7 linked regions of the Homo sapiens genome follow. The protein of the gene in region 1 interacts with the protein of each later gene in a biochemical or structural test. Each region holds a gene or a part of one and is shown on either strand. Other genes may lie near its edges.

Region 1 (2,955 bases):
TTAAAAATAAAAATGCAAAAAACATTTTGAGCTGAAGGGTCTTGCAAAAAGAGGTGATAGGTAGATTTGGCCCCGAGGGGGTGGGGGTTCACAGACCCCTGGCTTAGATGGTTCTCTCTTTGTTTTTGTTTTTTGTGGGGTTTTTTTTGAGATGGAGTTTCGCTCTGTCACCCAGGCTGGAGTGCAATGGCACAATCTTGGCTCACTGCAACCTCTGCCTCCCGGGTTCAAGTGATTCTCCTGCCTCAGCCTCCCGAGTAGCTGGGATTACAGGCATGTGCCACCACACCTGGCTAGTTTTGTATTTTCATTAGAGACAGGGTTTCTCCATGTTAGTCGGGCTGGTCTTGAACTCCTGACCTCAGGTGATCCGCCTGCCTCAGCCTCCCAAAGTGCTGGGATTACAGGCGTGAGCCACCGCGCCAGAGCCAGATGGTTCTCTGATCTTGGGTCTGGAGCTTGCAAGGGCGGCAGGGGTGAGGAGCATGGGGTCTGTGTTTCAAGGTCTGGGGACCCGCAGCTGTGTGAATGTTACATGGGCACCGGTGTGAGCGGGCCTGTCCGTCTGTCTCTCTGTCCCTGTTTGTTGGGGGTCCTGATCTCACCCCGTTCCCCACCCCCACCCCCCAGCTGTCCTGCAGGGTGAGTACCTGGGGCAAAAGGTGGCCGTGAAGAATATCAAGTGTGATGTGACAGCCCAGGCCTTCCTGGACGAGACGGCCGTCATGACGTGAGTCCCAGGGTGGGGCTGGGGACCGTGGGACGGGGGGGGTCCCAGCCCTGCCCTCACGCCCACCCCACCGCCCCCAGGAAGATGCAACACGAGAACCTGGTGCGTCTCCTGGGCGTGATCCTGCACCAGGGGCTGTACATTGTCATGGAGCACGTGAGCAAGGTGGGGCGGGGCCCAGGCGGGGAGGGGGCCCACGCAGCGGAGCAGCCCCAACATCCCGCGGCCATCTCCCACCCCCAACAGGGCAACCTGGTGAACTTTCTGCGGACCCGGGGTCGAGCCCTCGTGAACACCGCTCAGCTCCTGCAGTTTTCTCTGTAAGTGGGACTCTCAGGGTGCTGCGGCACTGGGGTCGTCGGGGCGCAGATTCCAAGATCCATCAAGGGGAAACTGAGGCACGGGGCAGGGAGGCTTTGTGAGCTTGTGGCCCCAGGCACCCCGAGCTTTCTGAGCCCTGAATGTGGGCATCCTGGCACCTGAGCCCCCACTGCCCCCTACTACCCCCAGGCACGTGGCCGAGGGCATGGAGTACCTGGAGAGCAAGAAGCTTGTGCACCGCGACCTGGCCGCCCGCAACATCCTGGTCTCAGAGGACCTGGTGGCCAAGGTCAGCGACTTTGGCCTGGCCAAAGCCGAGCGGAAGGGGCTAGACTCAAGCCGGCTGCCCGTCAAGTGGACGGCGCCCGAGGCTCTCAAACACGGGGTGAGCCCTGCCTTCACATACCCCTGGGGCTTTGGGGTCCCCCCAGCTCTGCTGTATGACCCTGGGTATGTCCCTTGGCCTCTCTGAAACTCCAAGGGCAATGGCTATGCCTCCCCAGGAAGCTCTTGGCCCATAATTGTTCCTCGTAGCCCCCCTCTGGGCCTCAGTTTCTCCAGCTCTGAAAAAGGCGTGGGCTCAGGACTGAAGGGAAGAATAACCAGGCTTCCTTCATGCACTAAGGCTGAGCTAGACTCAACTGCGGGCGGCGTTGGGGGAGGACTCAATTAGGAGAAGACCAGAGAGTGAGGGTCAACCCAGGAGGGCTTCCTGGAGGAAGCAGGGGCTGGAGCAGAAAACCTGAGGGGTCCCTCCTCACCCCCGTCTCGGGCCCCACAGAAGTTCACCAGCAAGTCGGATGTCTGGAGTTTTGGGGTGCTGCTCTGGGAGGTCTTCTCATATGGACGGGCTCCGTACCCTAAAATGGTGAGCGGGGGTCCCAGGGAGGCACTGGGTTCCGGGCAGGTCCAGAGGCTGTGGCCCTGACCCCTGCCCACGCCTGCTGTCCGCAGTCACTGAAAGAGGTGTCGGAGGCCGTGGAGAAGGGGTACCGCATGGAACCCCCCGAGGGCTGTCCAGGCCCCGTGCACGTCCTCATGAGCAGCTGCTGGGAGGCAGAGCCCGCCCGCCGGCCACCCTTCCGCAAACTGGCCGAGAAGCTGGCCCGGGAGCTACGCAGTGCAGGTGCCCCAGCCTCCGTCTCAGGGCAGGACGCCGACGGCTCCACCTCGCCCCGAAGCCAGGAGCCCTGACCCCACCCGGTGGGGCCCTTGGCCCCAGAGGACCGAGAGAGTGGAGAGTGCGGCGTGGGGGCACTGACCAGGCCCAAGGAGGGTCCAGGCGGGCAAGTCATCCTCCTGGTGCCCACAGCAGGGGCTGGCCCACGTAGGGGGCTCTGGGCGGCCCGTGGACACCCCAGACCTGCGAAGGATGATCGCCCGATAAAGACGGATTCTAAGGACTCTAGGCGCCTGTGTGTCTCTGTGTCCCCGTGCCCTCTTCCCCGGGGGCCACCTTTGGTGATCTGCTCTCGGACACCCCCAGGCGCCAGGCATCCTGGGTCCTCCCTTAGAGGTCCACCCCCCCTAGATGCCCTGTGTGCCCCAGCCCCAGTGGTCACCTTCCTACTCTGTGGAACCCACTGCAGCCCACATGATGGGATCAATTAATTGGGACCCCACTGATCCTTGGCCGAGTCTTGGGCACCCACCGGCCCCAAGCCCCTGCCTCCTGTGGCCACATGCCTGCACACGGGGGCCTCCCCATCTTGGCCCATGGAGGATCTGCCCAGCTGGCACCTGCCTGCTGGCCACTGTGGGGACACCGTTCCCTGGGGGATTCTGGGCAGGGGACCCACTTGCCATTACCCACGGGTTCCCCACTGCAGTCCCCCAGGGCATGTGGTATTCAGTGGTGGGCACCCTTTCCCAACCCATGGGGTCCCAGGCTTAAAGGATCTTGG
Region 2 (3,500 bases), on another chromosome or scaffold:
ATCACCCAGCAGCCAGGAGGATAGGTTCCTGCTCAGTGATAAACGATGTTGCCGACATTCCTCAGCCAATTAGAATTCCTTTCAGCTGCAGTGGAGGTGAACACAGCTGGAATTACAGAGTGGGGCGCGTCACCAGACGCGCTGATTATACATTATTTAAGCCTTGTTTTAAAACAATATGAGGGTGTTTTTTCCCCCATTAGTCCAGAAATGTGGAAACAACATTCCACTTGGTTTAAATATCTAAATGGATTAAATTGCATCTGGAGACAAAACAGTAATAGTGACATTTTAAAAAGAAGATATGCCCAAGCCCCATAGCTATGTGCTTTTGTTTTTTAAACATAGCTCCATGGCTTTCCTTTAACTAGAAAGGCCTTAGGGACTTTAGTCAGTCAGAATGAGTTCCCTGGACAAGAAGCTAATTTAAGTTGGAGGCTTTCACTTACAAATTCACTTACAAAATAACAAACCAGTAATTTAAAACTTGTTCAGTGACAAAAAAAAAAAATTGTATATTCCTTGTTTAAAAAAAAATTAGCCTCTAAAATGGTTTTGAAATTATAAAAAATTGATCCAAATAAGCATCCTAAAAGTTAGCTGTCTTACCCAGCAAATCAGAGCATGGCGAAGATATCAAGTTATTTCATCCATTTGAGGCTTTTTTGAACCACTGAATAAAACGCACAATTCAGCTATTTTAACTGTTAACCAGTGCCCACGATGTTGTACAAAACAGCCAGTCTAGTTAACTGGATCACTGAGGTGATATTGAAACACTATTTGTCGTTTTGTCTTTTTTTCTTTCTTAATCCATGAGGAAATATTTCATAAATAACACAGCCTCCAAAACCTTTCTTTCACCCAATTTTCCACACTAGAACCTGACATTGTGACTGAACCGAGAAAATGAAAATGTGTGGAAGAGAAAGAAAAACCCAACATTCAGAAAGGACTTTTGTAACTGCAAGACTAGAGGTTTTAAACTCTGACAGATGGACTTGAAGTTAAAAATCCTAGTTTGATAAATCACAACTACTGTAAAAATGGAGATAGAAATAAAGCATATGAAAGATTTCATGTCTAAAGTCAGTTGGGTGGGCCAAGAAGATTAAAAGGAAAAAAAAATGGATTTGAAAAAAGAAAGTTGTTCTAAAAGGCAACACAAATGTGATCAAATCACAAAATCAATGACAAAAACCTCTATTTGGCAGAATGTGATTCTTCTTAAAGTATAATTGCAATTCAAGTTTTGCAACAGCATTTGTTCTAACCCATCCTACACCTTCCAATAATTCATCTCAAAGAACTGCCTTAACTGTATCTTCCTAAACTTGAGGCAGACCCTAAGGAAAATGTAAATGCAAAGGGAGCTAAAAACTGACCACTTATTCCATCTTATCACAGCAACTGTGTTATATGGTTTTTGAAACAAAAGTTTTGCCTGCCTCACATAAGTGAGGTTCTTAGCTGGTACAAATTGACAAAGTCAACAGTCTTAACAATTTTCTTAATCTTTCTTGAGAGACTTAACTATTTTGAATCAATTGAGACACCTGTAATTCATCAACCAACATCATCAACAGCTATTACCACAACTATTTCACTCACAGTTGCACCATCTGAATGCCAAAACACAAGTCACCCTTACATCCCACAAGCTACAATTTTAAAAACAACCTCATATTTCCACATGCTATCAAGGAAAGTCTCTTTGTTCCTCTCTGTTTGGAATTAGAGTTTTTCTTACTTCACAATATGCAGTCATGCTCCAAAAGATATAAAAACACCAGGATATCTGAGAGTATTTCAATGCATAAAAGCACAAAAAAGTTTAGGCACTTGTATTTCAACTAATTGGTTGACATTACAATAAAATTTAATTTTCTTGAAGAGCATTGTAGAACCCTGAATTCCATTCTTTTACCCAAAGTGGCCTAAACAATGTGTCTGGGATTCATTTGTGTACCAGATAAGAACAAAGTTTTTGCAAATCCTGCTTGATTTTTCAATCAAAATGTTTCTAAAGTGTTTGATTTGCCAGTGAACTCCAATGACTACAAGATAATGCTCTTTAACAAAAGATCACTTGATTCTGGATATATTATGCCCCTAAACCTACTGAAACCATTTAAAAACTATTTTCCTACTAAAATACCACAAAAACATTCGTTAAAATGTTATTATTTTAAATACAAAGGCTCAAATATTCTTCTACTGTTTAGACCAGGTTGCCAAAGCAGTTCAACATATTACCCAACAGTTTTCAAAAACAATCCCACATGAAGAAATAAAGTCATAAATGTAATCAATACACAAAATTAATGCTTGGCATAAATCAAACACATGTGCTACACTCCAACACAATTTTCTGAATATCAGGATTAAGAATACCACTAAGCCCAAGTGCCCAACAGTAATTTGAAATAAGTAGGTAGCTAAATTGATATATCCTGTGAGAAGGAGGATCAAAGAGTATTATAATGGAGCTGAAATCTCATTTGATATATAAAGAAACTGAGACCCAAAAAGGTTAAATAACTTGTTCCGTAACATGTAGTTAATGAGAAATCTGTCTAGAATCTAGGTCTCCTAACTGTAAATCTAATGCCCTATTCACCCCCAAATAGAATCGTGGACCCCAAAGTTCTAAATGTAGTATCTTCAGTATCCTTTTTTTTTTTTTTTTTTTTTTTGAGACAGAGTCTCACTCTGTTGCCCAGGCTGAAGTGCAGTGGCACAATCTCGGTTCACTGCAAGCTCCACCTCCCAGGTTCAAGCCATTCTCCTGCCTCAGCCTACCCAGTAGCTGGGACTACAGGCGCCCGCCACCACACCCAGCTAATTTTTTGTATTTCTACTAGAGACGAGGTTTCACTGTGTTAGTCAGGATGGTCTCAATCTCCTGACCTCGTGATCCGCCCCACCTCAGCCTCCCAAAGTGCTGAGATTACAGGTGTGAGCCACCGCGCCCAGCTAATTTTTTGTATTTCTAGTAGAGACGGGGTTTCACCGTGTTAGCCAGGATGGTCTCAACCTCCTGACCTCGTGATCTGCCTCAGCCTCCCAAAGTGCTGGGATTCAGGCGTGAGCCACGGCGCCAGGCCATCTTCACTATCTTTGCACTGAATTTCGCTCTGTGTCTATTCATTGACTGGTTGAAATATCCCTCATTTTTAACAGTCTTTTTTTTTTTTCCAAATAACAAACATGGAAATAAACTCTGAAACCTGTAACAAAAGTATTCAAATTTTGAAAGATTGCTTCTCAACATCCCAGAAGTGAGAATTCAAACTTCCCTTAACCAGAAAGATGAGACTAAAACCTATTCCACCGTCAACAAACTTCTAGTTCAAACCTTTCGAGGTAAACTAAGGTTCCACGTACTGGCATTGCATGTGTACCATTACCGCTAAACCGCAATCCTATTGTAAGGATGATCACACTCACAAATCCTCTCAAACCATTCATAACATCTACTGAAAGGGAAAGGGAAAGGG
Region 3 (3,500 bases), on another chromosome or scaffold:
GCAGCCATGGGGTCCTTCCTGTCCTCCTAGCAGGAGAGGGTGGAGGGGCTTACGTCTAAGATTTCTTTGTTGGCTTTGGGGGATGTGTTTTCCCTCAACACTTTGATGGCCACTGGAATTTTCACATTCTCCCCATCAGGGATCCAGATGCCCTGGGCAGAAAGAGGAGGATATGAGTGAGAAGAGCGTGGGCTGGATCCTACCTGCCTTCCAGGAGATCATTACTTGTCCTCCAAACATCCTTCACCACCCTAGGGCTTGGCCCCGCTCCCTTCTCCGCTGTAACTGCCCTCCCCCAAACACTGCCTCCAGCTCTTGCCCCTCCCATCAGAACTGCCGACCACACCCCTCCAGGCACCGCCCCCATCCTCTGGGGCCGCCCACCCCAGGACCTGGCCCTGACCTTGTAGACTGTGCCAAAAGCGCCAGATCCAAGCACCTTCACCTTCCTCAGCTCCGTCTCTTTCAGGATCCGCATCTGCGCCTGGTTGGGCATCGCTCCGCTAGGTGTCAGCGGCTCCACCAGCTGGGGTGAGGGGGTGGTGGGTCAGTGCCGGGGGCCGGTGCAGACCCCACGCGGGCTGGGAGGACTTCACCCCGCCTCACCTCCGTTTCCTGCAGCAGTCTCCGCATCGTGTACTTCCGGATCTTCTGCTGCCGTCGCTTGATGAGGATCCCAAAGACCACCCCCAAGACCACGACCAGCAGAATGCCAACCACCGCAGAGATGATGGACGTCAGAGGGCTGGGGGCGGAAGCCAGGGTCAGGGATTGAGGGCTAGTTTGGGGTGGGAGGGACAAAGGGGGCCCACGGGGGACATGAAGGTGTTTGGCATTCGGAAAGGGAAGTCGGAAGGGTGACCCACAGGCTTGGACCCTCTCCTACTCTAAAACCTGCCTTGGCTCCCCGCTGCCTCCACAATAAAGTCCAAACTCCTTGTAGGCAATCAGAACCCTCTCCGCATCTCCAGATTCTCTATACTCTTGCCCTTGGCTCTGGCTTAGGGCTTCAACAATTCATGGTGTAAAAATCACTAAGGACTCTGGGCGCGGTGGCTCATGCCTGGAATCCTAGCACTTTGAGAGTCTGAGGTGGGCAGATCACAAGGTCAGGAGTTCGAGACCAGCCTGGCCAACATAGTGAAACCCCCGTCTCTACTAAAAATACACACACACAAAAATTAGCTGGGCGTGGTGTGGGTGCCTGTAATCCCAGCTACTTGGGAGACTGAGGCAGGAGAATCGCTTGAACCCGGGAGACAAGAGGTTGCAGTGAGCTGAGATTGTGCCACTGCACTACGGCCAGTGCAAGACTCCATCTCAAAAAAAAAAAAGTCACTAAGGAGACTGTTAATACACATGCCCCTCAACACCAAGGGGCTACGTCCTGATAAACCAATTCTAAGTTGAAACTGAAAATGCATTTAAGACACCTAGCCTGGCTTACACGTGCTCAGAACATTTACACTGCCAGCAGCTTACAGTTGGGCAGAATCATCTGACACAAAGCCTATTTTATAGTAAACTGTTAAATAAGTTTGTGTTATTTATTTATTTATTTTTGAGACAGGGCCTTGCTGTGTTGCCCAGGCTGAGTGCAGTGGTGAGATCATGGCCCACTGCAGCCCTGACCTCTGGGCTCAAGCAGTCTTTCCACCTCAGCTGCCCAAGTAGCTGGGACTACAGACACACGCCACCACACTCAGCTAGTTTTTTTATTTTTTGTAGAAATGGGGTCTCACTATGTTGCCCAGGCTGGTCTCGAGCTTCTGGCCTCAAAGGATCCTCCCACCTTGGCCTCCTAAAGTGCTGGGATTACAGGTGTGAGCCACGGTGCCTGGCTATGTAATTTATTGAATACTGAAAGTAGGGCTGGGCATGGTGGCTTGAGGCTGAGATGGGCAGATCACCTGAGCTCTCGAGTTCGAGACCAGCCTGACTAACATGGAGAAACCCCGTCTCTACTAAAAATACAAAATTAGCCGGGTGTGGTGGTGCCTGCCTGTAATCCCAGCCACTCTGGAGGCTGAAGCAGGAGAATCGTTTGAACCTGAGAGGTGGAGGTTGCGGTGAGCCAAGACTGCGCCATTGCACTCCAGCCTGGGTAACAACAGCAAAATGACATCTCAAAATAAATAATAAATAAATAAATAAATAAAAATAAAAGTGAAAAACAGAATGGCTGTATGGGTATTCAAAGTACGGTTTATACTGAATGTATATTATTGCTTTTCCACCATTGTAAAGTCAAAAAATCCTAAGTAATATCACAAATCAGCACACAGTCTGTATGCATACAATTTTGGGGCCCCACCCCCAGAGATTCTGACTGCTGCATGGGTACAGGAATGTACACCTGATGATTTTGATGTTCTAGCCAAAATTTCCACCCACAGGTCATGATTTTCCACACCTCCCAGTGTTTGCATAGGCTGTCCCTTCAGCCTGGACCACCATTTCTCCACAGGGTCATCTTTTAAGACTCGGCTCCGCCAGGCACGATGGCTCACACCTGTAATCCCAGCACTTTGGGAGGCCGAGGCAGGTGGATCACCTGAGGTCAGCAGTTCAAGACCAGCCTGGCCAACATGGCAAAACCTCATCTCTACTAAAAATACAAAAATTAGCCGGACGTGGTAGCGCATGCCTGTAATCCCAGCTACTGGGGGGCTGAGACAGGAGGATTGCTTGAACTGCTTGAACCTGGGAGGCAGAGGTTGCAGTGAGCCAAGATCGTGTCATTGCACTCCAGCCTGGGCAACAGAGCAAGACTCCATATCAAAAAAAAAAAAAAAAAAAAAAGACTTGGCTCATCGCCAGGAGTGGTGGCTCACTCCTGTGATCCCAACATTTTGGGAGGCCAAAACTGGAGGATCACTTGAGCCCACGAGTTTGAGACCAGCTCGGGCAACATAGTGAGACCCTGTCTATACAAAAAAAATTTTTTAAATTACCCAGGCGTGGTGGCACGCTCCTATAGTCCCAGCTACTGCAGAAGGGTAACTTGAGCCCAGGAGGTCAAGGCTGCAGTGAGCCTGTGATTACACCACCACATTCAAGACTGGACAAGAGAGCAAGACCCTGTCTCAATCACTCAATAAAAAGATAGCGTATCTGGCTGGGCACGGTGGCTCATGTCTGTAATCCCAGCACTTTGGGAGGCCAAGGTGGGCGGATCTTGAGGTCAAGAGATCGAGACCATCCTGGCCAACATGGTGAAACCCCGTCTCTACTAAAAATACAAAAATTAGCTGGGTGTGGTGGCATGTGCCTGTAATCCCAGCTACTTGGGAGGCTGAGGCACAAGAAGCGCTTGAACCCAGGAGGCAGAGGTTGCAGTGAACCGAGATGGAGCCACTGCACTCCAGCCTGCAGGCAGAGTGAGACTCCGTCTCAAAAAAATAAAAAAAAGATAGTGCATCCTGGGATAGATGGAGCTCCCGGGTGTTGATCCAATATTCTTGTCACCCTCTCCTCTCCATACCCCCTTGCTTAGCACA
Region 4 (3,500 bases), on another chromosome or scaffold:
GAACTCCTGACCTTGTGATCTGCCCGCCTCGGCCTCCCAAAGTGCTGGGATTACAGGCATGAGCCACCATGCCTGGCCATCTTTAATCTTAATAACTTCTCTAAGCCCACACTTCTAACTAGGTATTTCACTGATATTTCATATTAATACACACAACGTTAAACTCATTTACTTCTGAATTTTTTTATCCTTTAGGATGACACCATCATTCATTGTCATCCAAGCTCAGAACTCAGAGCCATATTTTACTCTCTTGATCTCATCATTAAAGCAGCTACCAATAATGTATGCTGTACTACTACTCTAGTGTAACTCATGTCTACCTCTGCATCCTACTTCCATCATCATCATCTTCCTTTAGAATCTTGTTATTTGCCTAGAGTCAACTATGTGACCACCTCCCAATAATTTTCTCTACCACTATCTCTATGGCGCTCCCATCTATCCAAATTCCAACAATGCATGAACTATGAATAAATGCCTCTCTGCTTGACCTTCAAACCTGGCATAGCAAGTTTCACCTAAACTTGAGGGTGTGAGATAGAAGAAATGAGAAAGGATTTATTCTTATTCCAAACAGGTAGCACAATAGATGCTCAACAAATATTTCCTAAAATGGAATTTTATTATGTATTATTGAAATGTTATCATGCCACTCTCCTGTGTAAAGAGCTGTAATGGGTTGCCATTGTCTAGAGGATATAGTTTTCACTTCTGGGTATACCCTTGGCTCTTGTATGCCTCCTTCTTCCTTCTCTTGCCACTTGTGGCCAGGCGCTCTGGGATCCAGCCGTATGGCACCACTGGGTGCCTTTAGTAATGGGCCTATGCACTTACCACTCCCTTTGCATATAGTCTCTCTTTTATTATTTGTATGCCTCCTATTTATCCCTTAAGATTTAAGTTCAGAAACTTTATTGACCCATTCTGAATTAGCTGCTCTTAAGATAAAGCATAATTCTATCATTAACGCTTACTACATCTGTCTGTTTCTCTGTATCTCTCTCACTCTATGGTAAGGTCTTTGAAGTCAGGAATCCATCTTTTTTTATTCCCCGGAGTCTACCACAGTACTTGTAGTTCATATATTTTGGTGAAAATACTTTTTTCTTCTATTAGTTATTCAACCAACTAGCTATATGTCCTTGGACAAACTTATTTAATTGACTGGATTTAATTTTCCACTTCAGGCCTGTTGGCCTCTATGCTGTGCTACATTCAAACCAGAAAACTTGAATTTTCTAATGTTTATATTTTTTCCAATGTCATTTTTAACTTTAACTTTTTGGAATTTTTCCTACTTTTAATACATCAGTGTCATATACCATTATCTAATTTCCCCCCCTTTTTTTCAACCTTTTAGTACTTTGTAAGACTTCTTCATAATTACAAAAATATTTTGCCAAATATTAGAGTTAATCACCTATTCACCTTATTCCATAAACTATGACATAAAATGCTTTGTAGTAGCCGGGCGCGGTGGCTCATGCCTATAATCCTAGCACTTTGGGAGGCTGAGGTAGGTGGATCACAAGGTCAGGAGATTGAGACCATCCAGGCTAACACGGTGAAACCCGGTCTCTACTAAAAATACAAAAAATTAGCCAGACATGGCGACAGGTGCCTGTAATCCCAGCTACTCAGGAGGCTGAGGCAATCCCAGCTACTTGTGACGCTGAGGCAAGGGAATCTCTTGAACCCGGGAGGTGGAGGTTGCAGTGAGCCGAGATCGCGCCACTGCACTCCAGCCTGGGTGACAGGGCGAGACTCCGTCTCAAAACAAAAACAAAAACAAAAACAAAAACAAACAAACAAACAAACAAACAAAAAGCTTTGTAGTAAGAACCATGTTCTATATGTTTTTCTGTTTCTCCTAAATAACACTGTCCCTGCAATACAGATTAAAAACTCACTGTTAAATTAATGAAAATCTGTGTTACAATGAATACTAGGACACGTTGTAAAAGAACTCGGATAGCAAAACTGGGAGTCTGAGCAGAAGAATCTTTCACTACATTAAGCAGTATCTTCTTTTACGACCTCTATAATTTTGAGATATAATGTTCCTATTTACCTATAATTCTTTCCTTCAGCCCTAAGCCTTCAATCAACTTACTTTATATTCTCATTTGCAGGTACTTCAGGCAGTTGCACAGTAATCATGCCATCCAAGTTGGTCTTCCCAATGAAGGCAGGCTTGGTACGTAATACATCTGGTGCAGTCTTTGCCGTGACCCTGTGCTGCAGCCCACCAGCACTGTTTCCACGATTTGTCAGCACAAATGAATATGATTTCTCAGGCTTCAGGTTGACAATTAACTTCTGTGTGGCTCGGCCATCCACTTCTTCTACCATTTTCCCATCATCATAAAGAATCTAAAGAGATAAAACCAATAAAAAAAAAATCTGGTTATCAGAGAGGCAAAATATATTTTCTAAACCAATGTGCACTAGCTTTTGGAAAATGTATATATAGTCAATTCTAATTTTAGGTGATTTCTAAGTCCATGAGTAGTCATAATTCTGGAGATCACATCAATTTTCCTGTCATTTCCTACTGTGTAATGATAAAATGTTTCCAAGTCTATCAAAAATACACAAAGATAGATATATACATATATATATATAGAAAATAACTTATCAATATTAGACCTGTCAGTTGTATGTGATCTTAATGGAATATGTGCAGAAAAGCTCTACGTTTCAACGTATTATGAATATTGCCTATTTTCTAAAGGTTTTGGTTCCTCTTTCTAAATATACTTTTACTTTCAAAAATGTTTCTCTATTTCTTATTTCATAAATATGTACTTGCTAACATCTCTTAATGGCAAGCCAGAGTTTAAAATGTGCCAAGAATACAGGCCAACAAACAAATTCAGAAACTCCCAGGGTATTATAATATAAATAGGTAGAAACCATGTAAATTTCATTCTCTGGCTGAAAAACAAAAGCACTAGCTTAGATGTAAAAAGTTCAAGTTCAAAGTAGTAGGTAACCTACAAGTGATGCCAGCCCTGGATTTAAGCTCCTGCTCCTTCTTCAGAGTGTAAAGGACACACTTACAAAGCACCAAACTGTCTCCCATGTGAAAGTCACAAATGAAAATAGCAAGGACACGTGGCCAAAACAAAGTGGTCTGCTTGCTGTGCAAATAACTTACCCAGATAAACTGTCCCCTCTACTTTTATCTGTGATTTCTTACAAATTAGAAAACAACTTACTTTGAAAGGCATGGCGGAGTTATAATTCTCTGGAATCTCCCAAGACAGCAACACGGAAGTCTTCATTACTGCTTTGACATGAAAATTTTTTGCAAACACTGCTGGAAAAGGAAAAACAGTGTATTTAAACTATTCTTAAAACAGATGACCTGTCCTTTCCACCATGGACCATAGGGGCTTATGCTAGATGCTGTCTACTTTGATCAGAGAGAGAAGTATGATTTTCCTACCTGTTTAGAGCATTCATTTTAATACCCCATTCTCACAGAGATCTTT
Region 5 (3,500 bases), on another chromosome or scaffold:
ACTGGTATTCTATAAGTGGGCATTTGTGGCTTGGGATAAGTTTCCAGAAACAGCATCATATGTGGAGACAAAGAGTTCTGAAGCACAAATAGCTTATGGGTGAAGATGACGAGTACTGGGAATTATCAAATGACTCAAAAGAGGGCTTTTGTGATGTCATCAATATGAGAAGATGCATGTGAAGAGTTTGCATAGACATATTTCATGAAATGTGAGACTGGGAAAAGCAACAAAATATGTGATCCTAAACAAGCAAGTCAGGCCTGGTACACCTGCTGGACCCCTAAAATGTAAAAGGCCCGTCCCTGGCACTCCCATTATCTGATCTTGTGATAGAAACACTTTTTGCACATGGTGGAGAGCTCTTGGAGTGCCAGGAAATCCCTCTTTCAGCAATGTGTCAACACTGAGGACTGGGCAGAAGCATAAGTAGAAAGTTACTGCTGCAGCTCAGCTTTCTTAACCTTGTCCACAAGAGTCCCTTTATAAATGTATTAGAGATGTTAATAACAAAACTACAATATGTGTGTCTTTTCACCAAACTTGATGCCAAAGTAAAAACTCAGTTCCAAGAAATTATTAAAAGGGTCACTTGATTTCTGGCCAAGTAAATCTGCCAAGACAAAATGGAGTCATCTTATTGCTTGAGAGTCCTGCTAAACAGCTTTGATCTTGTAATCATTTTGTTTTTTTTGTGTGTGATGAATGGCTCTAGGTGCCTTCATTTTGGCATTAAGCTAGGAAATGATTATATGCTCATTATTGGAACAATCTGAGGTCTGGATGGGGTATATGGAGAGAGAGAATATGTGTAGTCTCAGTCTCAGAAGAATTTTGATCTTTGTAACCAGAGAAGATAAACAGGCAAATAAATAGAGGAGGTTTGAAGGTATTTGTCTATGGAATTTGGCCAGTGTAAAAGTTGGCTTCCTTTGTAAGAAGACTATGTTGGCAAGTTCCATCTTGTTTCCCGCAAGAATTTTTGTGATGGGAGTGATAATGGTTTCAGGTGTGGCTAGTGCATTTTGGGAATTTTTCCTGGGCGATAAAACTGACCTGAATTTCATTGGCTAATCCTGTCTGTTTGTCTCCCTTGGAACACTAAAAAAGTCAAAAGGGTAGGATAAAATTCAGATGTGTTTTGAGAATTTCTAGAATTGATAAGTATTTTTACATCTAAGGATTGAAATGTACAAAATTTAAAAAATGAGATATCAATATACCTTTATGAATTCTCTTTTTAATTTTTTTCTTGCCCTACCCTTCTTTTTAATTTTTAACAAAGAAAGATTTAAATAGCAAATCCATGTGCTCTAGGAGCCCTGGAGGAATTCCTAATAGACTCTTTTAAAACTTGTGTCTCAGAATCAACTTACTGGATGCAGAAAAATATCTTCTCTGTAATGCTATTAATATTATATTTTTATTTCCTAATCCCAGGTTTCTGAAAATCATTTTGTTTCCTTTCATTCTTTTGTAGTTTCTAGTAAAGAAAAGGGGGAGCTTCATAAGGAATTCTATTGCTTCTTTGCAACATATATTAAATGTATGTAGGGGGAAATAAGTCTTAGTTGGAATGTATGTGCATTTATGTTATGTATATTCATAGACTTTGGAAGAGAGAGGAAGGAAGTTTTGTTTTTAGTTCACCAAAAGATGAACTGACTTTCTTGGAAGTATTTTCCTAGCATCATAAAAAGTTAACTATAGTTTCCATCTAGAGAAGTGTCCCAGACATTTCAGCAAAAGTCAACCAAATGTCTCTGAATTCATATGCCTTTACCCCTCAGCAAATTATATACTTTATGCTACTGAGGACATGTTTAATGTTCTACCTGATTGCAATTATAACCTTTATATCTTAGATTGAAACCTGTTAAAGTAAGTGAAACATACCATGCCAAAGTCAAACTGTCTTTAGAAAAGCTATACTATTTGTTCATTCAATGATGGTCATAGTCAGGTCCGTATTCCAAATCTGGCCCAGATCAAGAAACTCAAAGCCACAATAAACACTCAGACCAGGTGATCAACTGACTAGCAGGATAAATCTCCAGGTATAGCTGGTAGCTGTTACTATATTTAAATCACAGCACCAAGAATATCTCTAACAGCTCCTAAGAAAATACCATTTCATATAAGTATAAATAATCATCAACCAAAATATTTATGCTTATAAATAACAAATACCAACCAGGTAAAGTGCCAAGCTAGAACTTGGTAGACACAAGTCTTTTCCAGAAGGAAGTCCATGATTAAAGTCAAGCTCTAAAGGAAGGACTTGGGAACAAACATTTCCTCTCTACTCTTACAGGTTATTTAGAGAAGTATACGAGCTCATTTAAAAATGTTTTATTTACCAGCATTTCAGAAGAGGTTTTTTAAAGTTAAGTTCCTTTAAGTAATGTCAAGAATATAGATTAATCAGTTGTGTATCAGTGAGAGAATATAATCTCATAAGGAACAATTCTTTAAGGCATACAAATTAGCTTGAACATCTTGTAAATGTTGCAGAGATTATATAGAAATGTCAATAATTATGTTTTATGGGAATTGCTGCTGTGATAAAAATCTGTGTAAATCTGATAAAATCTGTGTAAATCTGATAAAATCTGTGTAAATATAAAAAAGCTTATATGGGAAATAACTTTAATATAATCTGAAATGTCACGAACATGCAAATCTGAATTGTAAAAACATTTTTCTTTTAGTTACCATTTACATTTTAAAGATATAATTTTAGGTGTAAATGAAGATTCAATTCCTCAATTTTCTTGGAAAAAATCTGCAACTATTTTGGATAAACACCATTTACAAAGCACAAAAGAAGCCCTGGATATTCTTTTTGAGACTGATACTTATTTCTAATTTATACCTCACAGTTTATAAGTGGGGAACTGATGTGACTTACCCTATTAAAGCAGTGCTCATGATTGGGTCCGTAAAAATGCTGGAGACATCTCACATTGTTTTTGTTGACGATCTTGTTGAAGAAGTCGTTGACATATTTGATAGGGAATGCACACATGGCAGATCGATCCATTGGTTCGGCAGAATCTGGCTTGCTTTGTGCGAACACCCCGAAAAGAATGTCATCATTCAGGCTGGCTCCTATTTGTCTAGCAAGCTGGGCCCCAGGCTTGCTGACATACGCAGCCTGAAGTATATTAAACACTTCCTTCTTTGTGGATCTCTTTTTTCTCTTTTCTGTGAGAATACACTCCAGAGGCATTTCCATGTAGGAATGCAATCCAGAGTTTATGGAACAGAACCTGATTATTCTTGTGTGAAAAGTCTGAGCATCTAGAGTTTCCCTTTGGACCGTCAAGAAGTAAATAAAATTGTTGCTTTCAAAGGCATGGACATACTTAATGGGGTAAGAATCTCTGAACTCAGGTAAAACATCAATGTAGGACTGGTCCGTCAAAAACATAAAACCATCTTTCGTTTCCTTTAGCCTTCTCACTGATATCGAATGCAATGGATGATCTGGGAAATAA
Region 6 (3,500 bases), on another chromosome or scaffold:
TTCTTCTTCACTTCTGCTTACATTTTATTTTTCAGTTTATTTATATATCTATTCTGGGAGAAAGCGTGTAAGAGGAAGAGGAAAATGCAAATAAATCTATTTAATAAAGTTACTTCTTAGCAGATAGAAAAGAAGGGAAAAAGAAGTTACATTGTGATGATAAATCCATTGCGGGTTACTCACTTCACTAATGTGGAGTAGCTACAATTTCTCTGTCTTCCACTGGCTGAGATAATTAAGAGTTAGCTGATATGTTTTGACAGAGGAGCATTTAATCTTAAAACTATTGCTTACAAATGACTGGATGGGCTTGCAATTGAAACTATGTCTTCCTCTATAAAAATACATGGAAGCTTTTACATTAAATTAAATTTTCTAATATCATTAAAGCTAAAATATCTTCAGCCACATCAGTTTATTCACTATTTTTATTCATTGCTATTTCATTTAATATACAATTTATTATATCAAAAAAATATAATTCTAGGTAACTCAAAAGACCAAACTTAGCCATTGTAACAAAAAAGAAAGAAAAAAAACCTATGGAGAATTTTTAAATTATGCTGAACATGTAATCGAAAATATTAGGCAGCATGTGTTTAAATATCTAGAGAAAAGAAGGCCGCAATGGAAACTAAATCCAATAGACTGAATATACAAAGGGACAATGGCCTGACCATATGTAAAAATAGAAACAAATTGGGAAGCAAACCTCCTTATCTACAATAAACAGCCCAGCAAACCAGCCTTTTGTAAATCAGATTTGCAGGAAGTCAGATTGCTATCTCTAGTAACAACCCAGGAAGCTACACAATTACTTGTATAACAATCAGCTCCAAATGACCAGAATTGATTAATAACTGGCAGCTTTCCTAATTTTTGTCCTTGCTTCCAACTTCAGACCAACAGAAAAAAGTCAAACATGCACCTCTAACCAATGGCTTCTAGTTATCCTGCCTATAGCTTCCCCAGGCCAACAGTCTCTAATGAGGGCATAGATGAAGCCTTCCCTTTTTTTTTTTTTTTTTAACCCTACACAGCTTTCCCACTCCTCTGCGGGCCTTTAAGTCTCTGCCAAAATGTAACTGATGGAGCTGACTTTCTTGCTATAGCAGTCTCTGAATAAATACTCTTTGCTTTTTTCGTTTGGTTAATATTCATTTATTTCCACACTATTGGAGCATCTATTCCAGGTCCATTAATAGGTAACGTGCATGCATACACTAAAAAGGTAATCTTCATAATATTCCGTGAGAAAATTTTTAAATCCCCATTTTACAGATATAGAGCACGGTTTGCAGAAGTTAAATAGCTTCTCATTTTCTCCTATTTTTACATCACGCTAGAGTAAAATAGCTTTTGGTGTATTATTGCTTAAAAAGATTTGAGGCCAGGCATGGTGGCTCACACTTGTAATCTCAGCACTTTGGGAGGCCACGGTGGGTGGATTGCTTGAGCTCTGGAGTTCAAGAGTAGCCTTGGCAACATAAGGAAACCCTGTCTCTACAAAAAAATATAAAAAAAAATTAGCTGGGCAGGGTGGCATGCACCTGTGGTGCTACTCTGGAGGCAGAGATGGGAGGATCTCCTGAGCTTGGCATGTGGAGGTTGCACTGAGCCAAGATCGTGCTACTGCACTCCAGCCTGGGTGACAGAGTGAGATCCTGTCTCAAAAAAGAAAAAATTTTAAGGTAATATTAAAAGTATATCTAACAATAGTAACAGCAGCTGTAAATTAGGTAAGTGTTTTCTAGCATGACTTAAATTTGTATTCATCAACTTTCTGGACAAATATAAACATTGTATTTTGAATTGATTCATTGCTTTAAAGTTGTAATTTATCAAAATATTTGTGGAATTGAAAAAATCAAAAGCACTATAAAAAATTACTTCTGTCTTTATTTGATATTAGAACACATCAGCAGAAATAATTTGCTGGCCAAGCAGTAATTGCATCAACAAGCTTTTCATAGATAGTGGGTAGAGCACCTTATAAGAAAGTGTGATTATTTATGATATATGATATTGACAAGGAAAAAGGTAAAAATGGAAATGGTAAAAATGAAAAGTGAAATTGATGATTCTAAAAGTAGAGTAATAAAATTTGTTTACCTGGCATTATAAATACTCTGCAATTTTTTAAAGTTAATTGCCTAACACTCATATAAGATAGGCAATATAGCATTTAGAAAATGAGGAAACAAAGTCATAGAGATATTCAGAACATTACCTAAAGTTTCTTAATTAGTGCGCAGTGGAGCCTATATTTTCAAAATGCATTATTTTTTTTTTTTTTGGTTTCAAAGTCTATCACATATGCTTAAGAAATATTTGATCAAAATTCACTTTTAAGATGTTCCCTTAGCACGTTATTTAGCCACCAAACTTAAAATGGTAGTAATTTGTTTTCTAATTTAGCCAAACTTAAAATGGAAGTAATTTGTTTTCTAATTCAGCCATGTAGGAAAGAAAGGAGGAACATGGCATTTGTACATGTTAGAAATTTCCGTAAAAGTTACGTAAAGCCAGACTGAAAACTATTAGGACAATATAGATGACAAATAAAGCTTTTTAAATGCCTGAACATAAAATGATACAATGATATTTAATCACCATTTCTTTTCCAAGGACTGAAAAAGTAAAAAGAAATCTACAGGTAACATTGTTTTATAATGTGGAATAAGAAATGATGGCTAAAGGTCAAATAAGTCCACGGGTGATTTAGACTTTGTCTCAATAATTCCATCTAGCTAGCTCAAACCTTTATTAAGAATTTCTTGCACTGAGAATTATAAATTAAAATGAACAAAAAGCTGAAATGTAAGAATTCTTATAAAAAGAAAAAGATTTATAGCATTGCAAGCTAAGAAAGAAAAACTATTTTTTTTTAAATTTCACTGTTGTAACCAGAAGTAATGAATTTGTCACTTAAAATTATAAATACAAGGGTATATAATTTGATCATTTTGCAAAGTGTACAGAGAGCCTCCTTTATACACCTTAACCGCTTTCTTCCCCTCTCACAAGCAAAAGACTGATTATTCATTACCTATCCATTGATCTAATTTTTAAAACTTTTAGTTATCTATTCCCCATTGGGCATGTGATAAAGTTTTCAGTTTGTACTATAATATTTTTTAACAGAAAAGAAAAAATAATTGAGGTCTCCATCTTTGTCTCTTTCCATATCAGATCTTCTAAATGGAGGTAGATGAGTAAAAGGTGTAGAGCAGATTTGAGATGCATTTTATAAGAAAACCACCTGGGAAATTTCCCAAACAAGACAAGTCCCAGACTCTAATCACATCATGGAAATAACATGCTTCAGTAACTTTGAAGCAAACCTACAGTGTAGTAGGCAGATATCTAGATTACATTATTCCTCTCTTCCACTGACTAGCTGTGTGACACCAGTCATATCACCTGACTTCTCTGTGGCAAGTTTCTTCCTTTGAAAGAAGGGGATGATAATAATAGAACCTCATGAAGTTTGTTTAAGG
Region 7 (3,500 bases), on another chromosome or scaffold:
CTTCTCCTTGGTTCCATCCCTCAACCCTACTCCCACGTCTAGGGCAGAATAGTCCTTTCAGCCCTCTCCTCCCTGACTCCCTATTCTCACCACCTAGCAGACCCTTTCCCTCACCGCAGTCTCTGCGCGGCCGATTATGCTTGATGTCTAGTCGCTCTTCCGTAGGCCCCCGAAGCACCTTGGTCCAGTTCAAAGAGTGGTGGTAGCAGAGCTGCCTATTGGCACTTATATAGATACGCCCAGCACTAATTTCCTTCAGGGATCGGAAGCCCAGAGATGTGACATTCAAGTTCTTCATGATCAACAATGAGAAGCCCCGGCTGAGAATAAGGAGACAGGATGAGAGGAGAGACTACTAAGGGAACATTAACTATTCAAAGGATTCATGTTAGTCAAGAAATTTGCTCAGTGCTAGTCAGATCCACTGAGAGGGAATCCCCCTCCTTTTGCCTTTTCCTCGTGAAACTCTGAAACCCTTTGGTTTTGAGGCACTGCTGTATGAGACAGTGCCTTGTATTTTACTAAAGAATGCCTATGACACAGGCTTCATTGCCTGAAGATGCCATTTCCTCCATACCCTTTACTCACTTGTAGAGGCTTCTGCCTCCAATGGTTGTCAAATTGGAAAAAACACTGAAGTTGTGCATGTGGGGCGGCCAGGACTGGATGTTCAGGTAACCTGAGGGGTTGGAGAGAGGCATATGGGCAGGGAGCCTTCTTCTTTCTTGGGTTCTCCTGGCTCCTCCCCTATAACTTGGGACGTGATTTTCTCAAGTAGTTATACCGCAATTTATGCCAGTGGTTCACCTATTCTTCTAGAAAGGGCAAACTCTCTGCCACTCACCTGTGATCTCCCGTACTGTCCGGAAGACATTGAGCTTCTCTGGGTCCAGGGCAGGGATCTTGTGCCAGGGGTCTCTGAATAGAACAGTAGAAACCAGTCAATAAGGTAAAGGTATAACTCAATGGCAATGAGCACACCCAGCCTCAGCATTTGGTTTCTAAATATCATTCTCCACTAAAAGGAAACATTCCTTGGAGAAATGGCTGGGATGGGGGAAATATAATATAAGCCCAGAGCATCTTGTGCAAACAAGACAAGACTCAAAGAATTAAGGGTACAGCCCAAAGAACACAGGAGCCAACTTGGAGGGGCTGGCTAAAATAAATAATGATTGTAAAGGATTATAACCATTGACTAGAATAAAATAAGTATCCATAAGAGTAAATAGGAAAGGAAGACCTTTTTTTTTTTTTTTTTTTTTTTTTTTTTTTGAGACAGAGTCTTGCTCTATCGCCCAGGCTGGAGTACAGTGGCAGCAATCTCAGCTCACTGCAACCTCCACCTCCTGGGTTCAAGTGATTCTCCTGCCTCAGCTTCCTAAGTAGCTGGGAATACAGGAGCACACCACCATGCCTGGCTAATTTTTTGTATTTTTAGTAGAGACAGGGTTTCACCATGCTGGCCAGGCTGGTCTTGAACTCCTGACCTTGTGATCCGCCCGCCTCGGCCTCCCAAAGTGCTGGAATTACAGGCATGAGCCACTGCACCTGGCCTTTTTTTTTTTTTTTTTTTAAGAGACAGGGTCTCACTCTGTTGTGCAGAGTGAGTGCACTGGCTGGAGAGCAGTAGTGCCATCATAGCTCACTGTAACCTTGAACTCCTGGGCCCAAGCAATTTTCCCACTGGCTCCCAAAGGGCTGAGATTACAGGCATAAGCCACTGTGCTCAGCTGGAAAGACTCTTCCTAACAGTAGAATGCCAACAAACAAATGCAGAAGGAATAATGGAATTAGAAAATTATCATTTGGCAACTATCATAACAATAATTGATTCAGGCAATTATCCCAAGACATTCATTAATTGTGAATGGAAAAATAGTAACTTTACAGTAGAAAAACCTGACAGATATCACCTTAACTAAGTGACCAGAGACATCATTGTGAGTGCTGGGACAAATCAACATCACGTACATCCTCAATAGGATGCCCTGAGCTCACAGCCTCTGTGGTGTTCTTATCAAACTCCAGCCTGGCAGCGGCGCATGCCTATAATCCCAGCACTTTGGGAGGCTGAGACAGGAGGATCACTTGAGCTCATGAGTTCGAGACCATCCTGGACAACATGGTGCAACCCTGTCTCTATAGAGAATGGCTTGAACCTGAGAGGTGGAGGTTGCGTGAGCTGAGATCACGCCACTGCACTCCAGCCTGGGCAACAAGAGCGAGACTCCGTCTCAAAAAAAAAAAAAAATATATATATATATACACACACATATATAAATATATAAATAGTATATAATATTTATGTTTATATATATTTATATATATTATTTATATATATATATTTATATTTATATATATTATTTATATATATATATATATATATATATATATAAAATTAGCCAAGCATGGTGGCATGCACCTGTAATCCCAGCTACTCAGGGGGCTGAGGTGCTCGCTTGAGCACGGGAGGCAGAGGTTGCAGTGAGCTGAGATCATGCCACTGTATTCCAGCCTGGGCAATAGAGCCAGACCTTGTCTCAAAAAAAAACTACAAAAACTTGAATCTAATCATGAGGACACATCAAACTAATCCAAACTGAAGAACATGCTGCCCATTACCTAATCTATACTCATCAAGAATATCATGAAAGATAAACAAAACCTGAGGAGCTGTTATAAAGGAGATTGAAGTGCCACGATAACTGAATGTAATGTATGATCCCAAACCTTAGGAGGACAATTAGTGAAATCTGAATAAGGTCTGTAGCTTAGATAATATTTTGTGTTAATGTTAATTTTCCGATTCAAACAACTATGCTGTGGTTATGTAAGAAAATATTATTTTTAAGGAATATACGCTGAAATATAACAGGGGTAAGAAAGAACCATGTGTGAAAATTTACCCTCACGTGGTCCAGAAAAACAATAGCATGTGTTTTGTGTGTGTGTGTGTGTGTGTAGAGAGAGACAGAGAGAGAGAGAAGTGATAAAGCGTATGTGGTATTTTTTTTGGCGGGGGACAGAGTCTCGCTCTTTCACCAGGCTGGAGTGCAGTGCCGCGATCTCGGCTCACTGCAACCTCTGCCTGCCAGGTTCAAGCTATTCTCCTGCCTCAGCCTCCTGAGTAACTGGGACTACAGGCGCACACCACCACGCCCAGCTAATTTTTGTATTTTTAGTAGAGATGAGGTTTCACCATGTTGGCCAGGATGGTCTCAATCTCTTGACCTCGTGATCCACACCTAGTGATCCACCTGCCTCAGCCTCCCAAAGTGCTGGGATTATAGGCATGAGCCACTGTGCCCGGCCATATGTGGTATGTTAACATTTGGAGGATCTGGGTAAAAGAGTGTATGGGGGGCCAGACGCGGTGGCTCACACTTGTAATCCCAACACTTTGGGAAGCTGGGGCGGGTGGATCACTTGAGGTCAGGAGTTCGAGACCAGCCTGGCCTACATGGTGAAACCCTGTCTCTACTAAAAATACAAAAATT

What was found.
Region 2: of the proteins of MATK (region 1) and SMURF1, one has a biochemical effect on the other in vitro, tested with the Homo sapiens proteins (one large-scale study listed by BioGRID).
Region 3: the proteins of MATK (region 1) and ERBB2 form a complex in vitro, tested with the Homo sapiens proteins (2 studies listed by BioGRID and IntAct, with this or other methods).
Region 4: the proteins of MATK (region 1) and PTPRD form a complex in vitro, tested with the Homo sapiens proteins (one large-scale study listed by BioGRID).
Region 5: the proteins of MATK (region 1) and MET form a complex in vitro, tested with the Homo sapiens proteins (one large-scale study listed by BioGRID and IntAct).
Region 6: the proteins of MATK (region 1) and ERBB4 form a complex in vitro, tested with the Homo sapiens proteins (one large-scale study listed by BioGRID).
Region 7: the proteins of MATK (region 1) and ERBB3 form a complex in vitro, tested with the Homo sapiens proteins (one large-scale study listed by BioGRID).

Annotation. Positions count from the first base shown.
Region 1 is NC_000019.10:3,777,473-3,780,427, reverse strand, and holds the end of MATK (megakaryocyte-associated tyrosine-protein kinase), read left to right. Parts: intron 1-630; coding exon 631-730; intron 731-810; coding exon 811-895; intron 896-976; coding exon 977-1,050; intron 1,051-1,240; coding exon 1,241-1,436; intron 1,437-1,832; coding exon 1,833-1,919; intron 1,920-2,005; coding exon 2,006-2,245; 3' UTR 2,246-2,455; downstream 2,456-2,955.
Region 2 is NC_000007.14:99,137,609-99,141,108, forward strand, and holds part of SMURF1 (E3 ubiquitin-protein ligase SMURF1), read right to left. Parts: intron 1-3,500. UniProt on the Homo sapiens protein: E3 ubiquitin-protein ligase that acts as a negative regulator of BMP signaling pathway. Mediates ubiquitination and degradation of SMAD1 and SMAD5, 2 receptor-regulated SMADs specific for the BMP pathway.
Region 3 is NC_000017.11:39,720,564-39,724,063, reverse strand, and holds part of ERBB2 (receptor tyrosine-protein kinase erbB-2 isoform a precursor), read right to left. Parts: intron 746-3,500; coding exon 607-745; intron 527-606; coding exon 404-526; intron 153-403; coding exon 54-152; intron 1-53. UniProt on the Homo sapiens protein: Protein tyrosine kinase that is part of several cell surface receptor complexes, but that apparently needs a coreceptor for ligand binding. Essential component of a neuregulin-receptor complex, although neuregulins do not interact with it alone.
Region 4 is NC_000009.12:8,482,003-8,485,502, forward strand, and holds part of PTPRD (receptor-type tyrosine-protein phosphatase delta isoform 1 precursor), read right to left. Parts: intron 3,326-3,500; coding exon of another isoform or gene 3,323-3,325; coding exon 3,225-3,322; intron 2,377-3,224; coding exon 2,117-2,376; intron 1-2,116.
Region 5 is NC_000007.14:116,699,696-116,703,195, reverse strand, and holds part of MET (hepatocyte growth factor receptor isoform b preproprotein), read right to left. Parts: coding exon 2,912-3,500; intron 1-2,911. UniProt on the Homo sapiens protein: Receptor tyrosine kinase that transduces signals from the extracellular matrix into the cytoplasm by binding to hepatocyte growth factor/HGF ligand. Regulates many physiological processes including proliferation, scattering, morphogenesis and survival.
Region 6 is NC_000002.12:211,415,803-211,419,302, forward strand, and holds part of ERBB4 (receptor tyrosine-protein kinase erbB-4 isoform JM-a/CYT-1 precursor), read right to left. Parts: intron 1-3,500. UniProt on the Homo sapiens protein: Tyrosine-protein kinase that plays an essential role as cell surface receptor for neuregulins and EGF family members and regulates development of the heart, the central nervous system and the mammary gland, gene transcription, cell proliferation, differentiation, migration and apoptosis.
Region 7 is NC_000012.12:56,090,165-56,093,664, reverse strand, and holds part of ERBB3 (receptor tyrosine-protein kinase erbB-3 isoform 1 precursor), read right to left. Parts: intron 919-3,500; coding exon 845-918; intron 680-844; coding exon 589-679; intron 321-588; coding exon 115-320; intron 1-114. UniProt on the Homo sapiens protein: Tyrosine-protein kinase that plays an essential role as cell surface receptor for neuregulins.